Linked DNA regions of Homo sapiens: region 1 is linked to region 2. The links come from fine-mapping of genetic effects on plasma protein levels. Region 2 holds a variant in brackets. A gene starts in the other region. All regions are shown on their reverse strands.

Evidence for each region. PIP is the chance, under the fine-mapping model, that this variant and not a neighbour inherited with it causes the effect. Protein levels are from antibody-based Olink assays in UK Biobank. Linkage for the fine-mapping came from a reference panel and not from the study's own genotypes, which makes the PIPs less certain.
Region 1: UROD starts here. The variant in region 2 is fine-mapped to the plasma level of the UROD protein (UK Biobank, PIP above 0.99).

The regions. Positions count from the first base shown.
Region 1 is chr1:45,010,502-45,012,558 of GRCh38, reverse strand. UROD (uroporphyrinogen decarboxylase) reads right to left here and starts at 305. Exons shown (of 10, transcript NM_000374.5): 1 at 274-305. The coding sequence starts at 293. HECTD3 (HECT domain E3 ubiquitin protein ligase 3) reads left to right here and starts at 1,235. Exons shown (of 21, transcript NM_024602.6): 1 at 1,235-1,670; 2 at 1,853-2,013. The coding sequence starts at 1,302. RefSeq lists enhancers at 209-338, 379-428 and silencers at 1,189-1,318, 1,399-1,568.
Region 2 is chr3:3,171,544-3,179,543 of GRCh38, reverse strand. It overlaps CRBN (cereblon), which reads left to right. Exons shown (of 11, transcript NM_016302.4): 2 at 4,275-4,381; 3 at 5,283-5,485; 4 at 6,619-6,768. Among named protein-coding and RNA genes, the nearest start is that of CRBN, 4.1 kb to the left of the region's middle. The variant G/A (reference allele first, on the strand shown) is at 4,295.

The DNA of each region.
Region 1 (2,057 bases), not on the chromosome of region 2:
CTGAGAAATACCCAGGCTGGGGGATAAAGAGGGATCAGAGTTGATGGTCCCAGAATAGAGATCCTGGTTGGAAATCCTGAGGCATCCCTTGAATTAAGGCCCTGGGATGAACATCTCAAAAATCCATGGTTTTAGGATTCAGGATCCCAGCTAACGGAGTTCAGGTTGGGAGGTCTCCAGGGTGGGGAAAGGGGAGTAGAGGGATAGAGTCCTGAGTTGGAAGACTCAAATTAGAAGCCCGGCTAGCCACACCGCGTGCTCTGGAGAACTCACCCCAACCCATTCGCTTCCATGGTCAGCTGTCTGTAACTGCGAGCTCAATCCACAATTTAACCTGAATCTGAGCCTGCCCCCCAGTCCAGGCTCCGCCCCTTTCTGTAGGGAACCAAGAGCGTCGCCATGTTGAAGATCACATGATCGGACTCCAGCGACAGCTCCAGGGCTGCCCTGGCTGCTGCCCGTAGGACCCCTACCTTTTTTCACCGTAAAGTTTGCTGTAGCGACGCAACAACAAAGGCCCAAAAGAAAACTCCGCTGTAAATGTATCTTACGGTGACATGAGGAATTTGTTCTCATCTGACAGTCTGGGTATCCGGAGGCTTGGCGCAAGTCCCACTCATGATACCAACAGTCTTATCCAGCCAGGTCCATACTATAGCCTGGACCTATAGTAGGTGCAGAGGTTAGCTCTGCTCAAGACAGCCCCAGCCTTTAAGGAGCTACAAGACTGGGGAAACAGAAATCAGCAATCACATTAAAATGAATAATGATCTCCAGTGTCCTTGGGATTAGGAGTGACAAACAGAATCAACCCTAATGACTCAAGACTCCTGTCAGTGGCAGGGGAAGGGGCCATTGTCTCAAACACTTTAATCACACCACCCATAGGATAGGGAGTCCAGCAGATTCGCTGGGAGTGGGAGGAAAAACAGCAGGCCGAAGAACCAGAAAAATGACTGTTGGCAATGACCCAGGCTAGCTAGAATGGTGACTTGAATGAGGGTAGTAGCAGTAGAGATAAAATGGTAGTCACAAGGAAATGGAGAGAGGGAGATTGATCAGGTAGCAATCACCAATCTTGGGTTTGGTCGGCTGGGTTAGGGTGGCACAGAGATAAGTAATATGGTTGAGTGTGGGAGTACACAGTCCAATACAGTGAGAGCTGGGGTGCGCTTAGTCCAGAACATACGGCAAAGGCTGGCCAAAGGCGGGGAAGGGCGTGGTGGGAAGCTCTGTCCGCGGTCGCGCCAGCTGTTCCCCGGGCAGGGTCGCCTCTAGGTGCTCACCTCCGCCACTTCGCCATGGCGGGTCCTGGCCCGGGCGCGGTGCTGGAGTCCCCCCGGCAGCTGCTGGGCCGCGTGCGCTTCTTGGCAGAGGCAGCGCGGAGCCTCCGCGCCGGGCGGCCGCTGCCAGCAGCGCTGGCTTTCGTGCCGCGAGAGGTGCTCTACAAGCTTTACAAGGACCCAGCGGGACCGTCGCGCGTGCTTCTGCCGGTGTGGGAGGCAGAGGGCCTGGGGCTGCGTGTGGGCGCCGCAGGCCCAGCCCCCGGTACCGGCTCCGGGCCCCTCCGCGCCGCCCGCGACAGCATTGAGCTCCGGCGCGGCGCCTGCGTGCGCACCACGGGCGAGGAGCTGTGCAATGGCCACGGGCTCTGGGTGAAGCTGACAAAGGTGCGCTCTTCCCTGCCCAGGACCCGGTAAAAGACCCCTGGGGCCAGAGAAACCTCTGGCTGTTTGCCTTTTCTCCCCTGTATTGAGTTGGCATTGCGTTCGGCGCCCTTTGCCCTGGGCTGGGCACGACAGGCGGCTGGGCAGTTCCCTGACGGCTGTCCCCATCCTACGCGTCCCGGCAGGAGCAGCTGGCAGAGCACCTGGGCGACTGCGGGCTGCAGGAAGGCTGGCTGCTGGTGTGCCGCCCGGCGGAGGGCGGAGCCCGCCTGGTACCCATCGACACTCCCAACCACCTCCAGCGGCAGCAGCAGCTCTTTGGCGTGGATTATCGGCCGGTGCTCAGGTACTGCACTTGAAGGAGCGGGGCTGGCTGTCAGAAGGCCGGGC
Region 2 (8,000 bases):
AGGCGGGCGTGGGGGCGCCAAGCCTGGCGAGCCAGCCCAGCAGGGCCGCACCGGAAAGCTGCTTCACGTCGGCCCTCGGCCAGCGATGGAGTCGCGGCGCTTTCTTCGCTGCTCTGTTGCCCCGAGCCGTGAGCCAGGGTGTCGGGGGGAGCATTTGCTATTAAGAACAGGAAACCCATCCTCTCCATCCTCCTTGTGTTCTGAGTTTAGCTCCTAGGAAATGCTCTGAAACTAGAGGACCGGGTCAGATTCACAGCGGTTACTTTTGCTGGTCTCCTTCCTTTTAATAAGAGTGACAGCTAACATGTACTAAGCACTTACCATGTTACGAGCCGTGCAGTTAACGCTTTGCATGCATGTCGCCTTTTAATCCTTCCCACATCAGTTTTCAGTTTCCGATTTGATAAGCGAGTATTGGATTTGCAGATTAGTTCAATGACTTGCCCAAGGTCACACAGCAGAGTCAGGATTCCAACCCGGGTGTGTCTGTCATTATATCTCTAAACCACTTCTCTGTTTTGTTTTTCTTACTATCGGTCTTTCTCAGGCATGTACGATTATGCTTAATCAGAGATACTTAGTTTTTCTTTTTCCTGTATGTTGTGTGAAATGTTTAGACTTTGGCCTTGTGTTGAAATACTGAACAAAAAAAAAAATGCATGGAATATTGCATAAACTTTTCATGGAATGCCTTTCAAGAGATGCTTTCCAAAAGGTGTATCATCCAAACTTGAAAGTATTACTTGAGTCCCTTCGTTATATGACAAGTATGTTAGGTGTTGTGGAGATGAAACGAGAGGTAATACACAATCTGATAATTGAGGTTTACTGTCTAGGCGGGGCTGCTGAGAATATAACTAAACGTAAATCAACTGCAGAGGCGGTTGATTTAGGGCCAGATAAATGAATGCTGTTGTGGCTCTTCAGAGGCAGAGGTTGTTTAAGGGTCAGAGGATTTGGGAAAAAGCCTTTCAGGTAGATCAGGAGACATCTAAAAGCACATATTTAGGATATGGTTGTGGGACATAAGGCCTAGGAGGTATATTGGGTCTAAGTTGCTGGGAAACTGGCATCTCTTGCCAGTGGGTTTGGGTTTTTCCTGTGGATTGCCAAGAAACAGTTTTAGGTTTCAGGTAATTGCCTAAAGAAATCTATGCTTGGAAGATTAATTTGTCCACTGGTAGCAGCATGGATTAAAAGAGGAAGAGACTGAGTGCGTGCCCACCATATAGGAGAGAACTTTTCTGTAAAAATAAACCATAGTCACTGGTTGTTCTCGAAGCCATTCTAGCTGAGTTGACACAAGGGTAAGTGTGCCAGCCTTTGATGGAAAGCTGAGCTATTTTTTCAGAGACATTAGCCCTACTCTCTGTGCCAAATCCGGTGTTTCAGGGAGAATGGTGAATAGAAGAGGGAGGATACTGATCTTCTGTCGACATTCACATCGTGCCTCTGCATGAGATGAGTCATCAGACTTCACTGATAGCTCTGAACAGTCAGCGTGGTTTTTTGTTTGTTTTTTTTTTGTTTGTTTTGTTTTGTTTTTTGTTTTTCAGAAAAGCGTCGGGAGAGGGCCCAGAGATGGTGTAGATATAGCAATAATGCCTCTCCAAATTACGTAAATTTTATTTGTAGGGAAACACTGGGCTTTCCATAATTCCATGTAGTACGAGTTGTTCTGAAGAGTAAATCCTCTAAGTTCCAACAAAAAGCTTTATATTTGAGATGTGAAGAGTTTATCCTAGGCAAATGAAACATTAATAAACATAACTGAGTAGGGGAAAGTGGTTTTTAGCCATATTTATGAAAAAAAGGTTACTAAAGAAATTATTTAGAGACTAGGAGTCAGAACAGTTAAAATGTAAATTTTTAACAATATTAATTCCAGCCTTTGAGCTAATAGTTTATCTTTTAAACTTTCTGTAGTAGAGCAATAAAGTGGGTTGTGCTGCATGCCAAGTGATAGCCATACTGTCAGAGTTGGAAATACAAACAATTTGATGCAGAATATTTTTGTCATCCATTTAGATAGCTCTTTTTTTATCTCAGTGAAACTTACATGTTCCAAGGAAAATTTGTATGAAGTGTTAGACCATTGGCTATTTACATATAAGTTGAAGTAATTCTGTTTTTGACAAAGTTTTATATCTAGGAAGTTGTAATAATAAATAGAAAGTCCAAGGCAGTTACCATATTGAAAATCATTTTTATTTTCTGTCAGGGGCCTGGCTAGAGGTGGTTTGACTTAAATAATGATATGCAAAGGAAAACAAATGATTATTTCGTAATGACATTTTATCGATTTAGAAGTTTATTTGGGGCATTTAAAAATACATGAACTGGGAGGTGAGAAATGAGATTCAGTAATTCTTTATTGTTAGTCTAGGCCAGGGTCTCCCAACCTCAGCACTGGACTTTTGGGCTGGAGAATTCTTTGGGTGGGATTGTCTCGTGCATTGTAGGATATTTAGCTGCATCCCTGGCCTCTACCCACTAGATGCCAGTAGGACTCCCTTAGTTATTGCAACCAATATCCCCTGAGGGGCAAAATCACCTGTGGTTGAGAGTCACTGGTCTAGGATAGGAAATTTACTCATAGTTTGTATGAAAAGGACAGACTCACAGTTAGTACAATAGCATATGTATTGTGTAGCGTTTTCTAATTTTCTTTGCTGTCATTGGTAACATCTGGTTTTCTAAGACATTCTTTTAAAATGTTTTATGCTTCATGCAAACTTTATTTTTAAATTTAAAATTAAGCAAAATAGTATGCAAATGATTGCAAAATTTTCTTTGTTTCTTTCTTTTGAGATGGAGTCTTGCTCTGTCGCCCAGGCTGGAGTGCAATAGCACAATCTCAGCTCACTGCAACCTCCACCTCCTGGGTTCAAGCGATTCTCCTGCCTCAGCCTCCCCAGTAGCTGGGATTACAGGCACCTACAACCACACCCGGCTAACTTTTGTGTTTTTAGTAGAGATGGGGTTGCAACATGTTGGCCAGGCTGGTCTTGAACTCCTGACCTCAAGTGATCTGCCTGCCTCGTCCTCCCAAAGTGCTGGGATTACAGGTGTGAGCCACCACACCTGGCCTTCATTTTAAGATAATGTAGCGACTGCCAGGGAAATGTTGTCACTAGAAAAATGCTGTGAAATTCTTCCTGCTAGGTTATCTTTCTCTCAGTTTTAATTAACAGATCTTGCCTGCTTTGTTTCTTTTCTTACTTATGTAGGAACTGATTGAAGTTGAGAGTTTGAGAGAACGTTAGAGGTTGACTTGTTGAAGCCTATCATTTTGCAGATGAGGAAACTAAAATTTAATTGGGCAGAATGAGTTGTCTAAGGTGTTAAAATTAGTTACTGGTGAGGGAGAAGAGAAAAATCTCCCATATAGAAGAATTTTAAATAACTTACATTTCCTCTTCAAGGGAGTGGAGCATAACTCATCACCCCTGAAGTGGAGGCTACACCTAGTGATTTGCTTCCGAAGGGTACAATGTGAAAAGGAGGGGGGAAAGGAACTTTACAGCGGAAAAACCTGACACACACTGCTGTAGCCAGGTGATCAAGGTTAACAGCAGGAATAGTTCATAATATATAGGCTGGATATGTAATAAAAACAGCACATTGGCAACAGACCCCATTTCTAAAAAGGAAAAGAATAACAACACTTCACTTCTGTGGTCTTCCTCCCTAAAACACGTATCCTCAGTCTAATCATGGGAATTACATCAAACAAAACCCAGTTGAGGGATACTCTACAAAAGGCCTGACCAGTACTCCTCAAAACTCAGAAACAAGCAAAGTCTGAAAACCCCCCTAGCCCAGAGGAGGGTAGGGGGACCTGATAACTAAATGTAAAGTGGGATCCTGGAACGCAAAAAGACTAGATAAAAACTAAGGGAATCCATTTAAAATATGAAGCTTAGTTAGAGTAATGTACCAAGACTGATTCCTTCGTTGTGGCAAATGTACCATACTAATATAAATTAACTATAGGGGAAAAGGATGTGTGACACACGGGAGCATTCTGTACTATCTTTACACTTCTCTGTAAATGTTAAACTATTCTAAAATTCACAGTTGACTTAAAAAAAAAAAATAGCTACTGACAGAGCCCAGCACGGACCCCAGTCCTCTGGCTCCCTCTTCACGGTGCTGTAGAGTTTACCAAATGCATGTGGTTTTAGAAGTACCCCTCTTTTGAAGAAGGAATTACATGTTTGAAAGGTTTTCATTCATCTTTTTTTTTTTCTTACAATATTCTACTTTTATAGCAGAGAGTGAGGAAGAAGAT[G/A]AAATGGAAGTTGAAGACCAGGATAGTAAAGAAGCCAAAAAACCAAACATCATAAATTTTGACACCAGTCTGCCGACATCACATACAGTATGTAATTTAGTGACAGATCTAATATAATAGATATACATTTAAATGTAGATAAAAGTTCATAAAAACAAGTGACTGATATTTGTATTACTAGATATCAGAAATTGTGGATGAGGACATGGGCTATTTGCCAGTAGATAAACATTTAACTGTAATTTTTAAGAAGCTTAATACTATGTTGTGGTAGAATTGTTTGAGGAATTGTTGCTCTTTATACTCTTTCTGGTAATTGAGCTATTAAATACTTCTCTGTACTTCTAGGTACTAGAGTGTTATTGAACATACTAACATTTTATACTTACTGTTTGTGATATGTGGGCATAGAGATATTTCTTGGTAAAAATAATACTTTGTACTAAAAAAATTCTTGAATTTCTGTGTTTGTGATATATTCATAAAAGATTAGAAATTCTTCTAAGAGTTAAAGTTAGATTAAAAATTATATTTTAACATGGGATGCTTATATACCACGTTTATTAAGTGTTTGTAACCCCATTTGTATTTTTTTCTTTTTTTTTGAGACAGAGTGTTGCTCTGTCGCCCAAGCTCGAGTGAGTGCAGTGGCACAATCTCAGCTCACTGCAGCCTCCACCTTCCAGGTTCAAGTGATTCCCCTGCCTCAGCCTCCCGATTAGCTGGGATTACAGGTGTCCACCACCACACCTGGCTAATTTTTGTATTTTTAGTAGCAACAGGGTTCCACCATGTTGGCCAGGTTGGTCTTGAACTCCTGACCTCAGGTGATCCGCCTACCTCGGCCTCCCAAAGTGCTGGAATTACAGGTGTGAGCCACTGTGCCCGGCCTGTATTTCTTTTAATGTGATTTGCTCTTTAGTCTGTTGAGCTTACATTTTTATTACATATCGATCATGACACTATACCTATATATGTTTTTATATAGTACCTAGGTGCTGATATGGAAGAATTTCATGGCAGGACTTTGCACGATGACGACAGCTGTCAGGTGATTCCAGTTCTTCCACAAGTGATGATGATCCTGATTCCCGGACAGACATTACCTCTTCAGCTTTTTCACCCTCAAGAAGTCAGTATGGTGCGGAATTTAATTCAGAAAGATAGAACCTTTGCTGTTCTTGCATACAGGTAAAATATTAGAGTCCATTTGCTTAATACATTCCCTCTCATGGGTAATTGCAGTGGTCAGTGTTGAAGCCAAAGCAGGCTGTTATTTCGCATGTACAGGAGAGGTTGGGTAAGAATGTGAGGTTAGGAATTTGGTTAAGTAGAAGTTTGATAGTGCAAGTTGGAGTATTTTTGTTCATTTCATTACCATCTAACTCAGCTCTTCACCTTCATACACAATTTAACTTTCTGGTATTTGAAAAATTTTTAATCATTTATATTTGATGAAAAACATTTCTGGAATCTTAGTTTCAATAACTGTCTTCATTATAGAGAAGTAGTGCTTTTTTATTTTAACGTAAAGGATTACTTTTCCAAAAGAGTGGTCTTTTCTTTCCCTCTCTCTCAAAATTCATAGGTTGTACCACTTTAAATTGAAGCTGAATTTTAAGTATCCCATGGCAAATAAAGGAAATCTGCGGTAGAGGCAGGAAATACATACAGGAAGCTCCCACCCCAGTACAGTGCTGCCAGTAAGCAGCAGAAATGATAAGTCATTTGACAGAGTGAAAGAATGTTTGGTTTGGGAAATGAGTTTAAACCCCTGTAAGTTCTAAATTATTTTCAGTGACTAGAAATCTATTATTTTCCTAAAGTTCTCTAATTGTACTTCCTGAGTCCTTCTTGTATATCCCCCATGTGATTTAAAAATAAATAAAATTGGCCGGGCATGGTAGCTCACGCCTATACTCCCAGCACTTTGGGAGGCCGAGGCGGGTGGATCACCTGAGGTCGGGAGTTTGAGACCAGCCTGACCAACATGGTGAAACCCCGTCTCTACTAAAAATACAAAAATTAGCCAGGCGTGGTGGTATGTGCCTGTAATCCCAGCTACTCAGGCAGCTGGGGCAGGAGAATCACTTGAACCTGGGAGGCAGAGGCTGCAGCAAGCCGAGCTCATGCCACTGCTCTCTAGTCTGGGCAACGCAGCGAGACTCCATCTCAAACAAATAAATAAATAAATAAAATTATCCTAGCTTTGTAGTAAGGGTTGATTCTATAAATTGTTTACCTGTATTTATTGCTTTGCCTACTTTGCATATATTTAAAACTCAAATGTTCAAAATTCTTTCCTTTTAAAATTTTCTTGGAAGCAATGTACAGGAAAGGGAAGCACAGTTTGGAACAACAGCAGAGATATATGCCTATCGAGAAGAACAGGATTTTGGAATTGAGATAGTGAAAGTGAAAGCAATTGGAAGACAAAGGTTCAAAGTCCTTGAGCTAAGAACACAGTCAGATGGGTAAGAAATAACATATACCTTAATGCTCTTTGAATGTTTCCTAATGAAATAGTTTTCTTGTACTTTTTCTGTTCTACTGAGCCTTCATATTTTGTAACTTTTAACTAGTTGTTCTCTTTCCCTTCTAAGGTATAGCCCAGTGGTTTCCAACCTTGCTATGCATCAGAATCACCTGGGAAGCTTTTAAAACTATAGAAGCTTGAGTTCCAACCTCATCTCCCATCTCCAGAGAGTGATGAGGCTGCAGCATCTTTTAAAAATGATTTTCAGGTGATTCTAATGTCTCTCCAGGTTTGAGAACAATCATGTAAATCCAAAGGGAAGTGTTGTTTGGGATTTGGCTTCTTTAGGATTGAAGGCCTCTCGGAGCATAAGAGGATAGGGAGACCAGAGGCTTGTGAGCTGTTCGTGTGCTCACCAGGACAGCTGTGGTTTTTGTAGCATTGCTATGATGTTTGAAAGCCACACTGGTTACATCTGCCTACTGCTCCAGCTGAGCTATAAAAGCCATTTATATTTCGTGTCCCTCTCCAGTGTGAATTTTATATCACCCAGAAATGCTATTTACATAATAAATGATCAATAAATACTTGTAGTCTATGTGCCTTGTGACATTTAGAAATTCCCTGAGTATACTGTTTCAGCAGTAATTCATTTTGACAAAGCTGTCATGGCTGGGTTTTGCACAAATTCAAGGGATACACATTAAAACAGACACAAAAAAGTCCAGTTTATTTTATCCTCTTTTAAAAAGGAAACAAAGCATTTGCCTTGATCACTGGATATTACCTCTTAACGGAGTGCTTCTAAACTGTGGCATCACCCGTGAGGTCTCACAGATACACAGTCCTGGTACGCAATACAAGTACTAGTGAATTGGTTTCCAATTTATACCCACAGTTGAAAATCTCATCAGACCTCTGTGTTGCCCAGGTGGTATCTTCTGAACACATGCAAGTTCTGAGTATTTTGGGGTTTTTTTGGGCGGGGTGGGGGATTAAGACTGAAAAAACAATGTGAGCAGCATGAGGGCAGGAACGTTTTGTCTGTTTTGTTCACATGGTGGGCGTTCCTATATATTTTTGAATTATGAAAATATTGACATGTCAGGTAGCTCCTTGGAGCTAAAGAGAGCATAGAGGCATGTGAGATGGGATTGCCAGAGCTCTTAGGGTGTTTAGTTCTCCCCAGGTACTTTTCCAGAACATTCACTGTGCAAACTTTGATAGCCT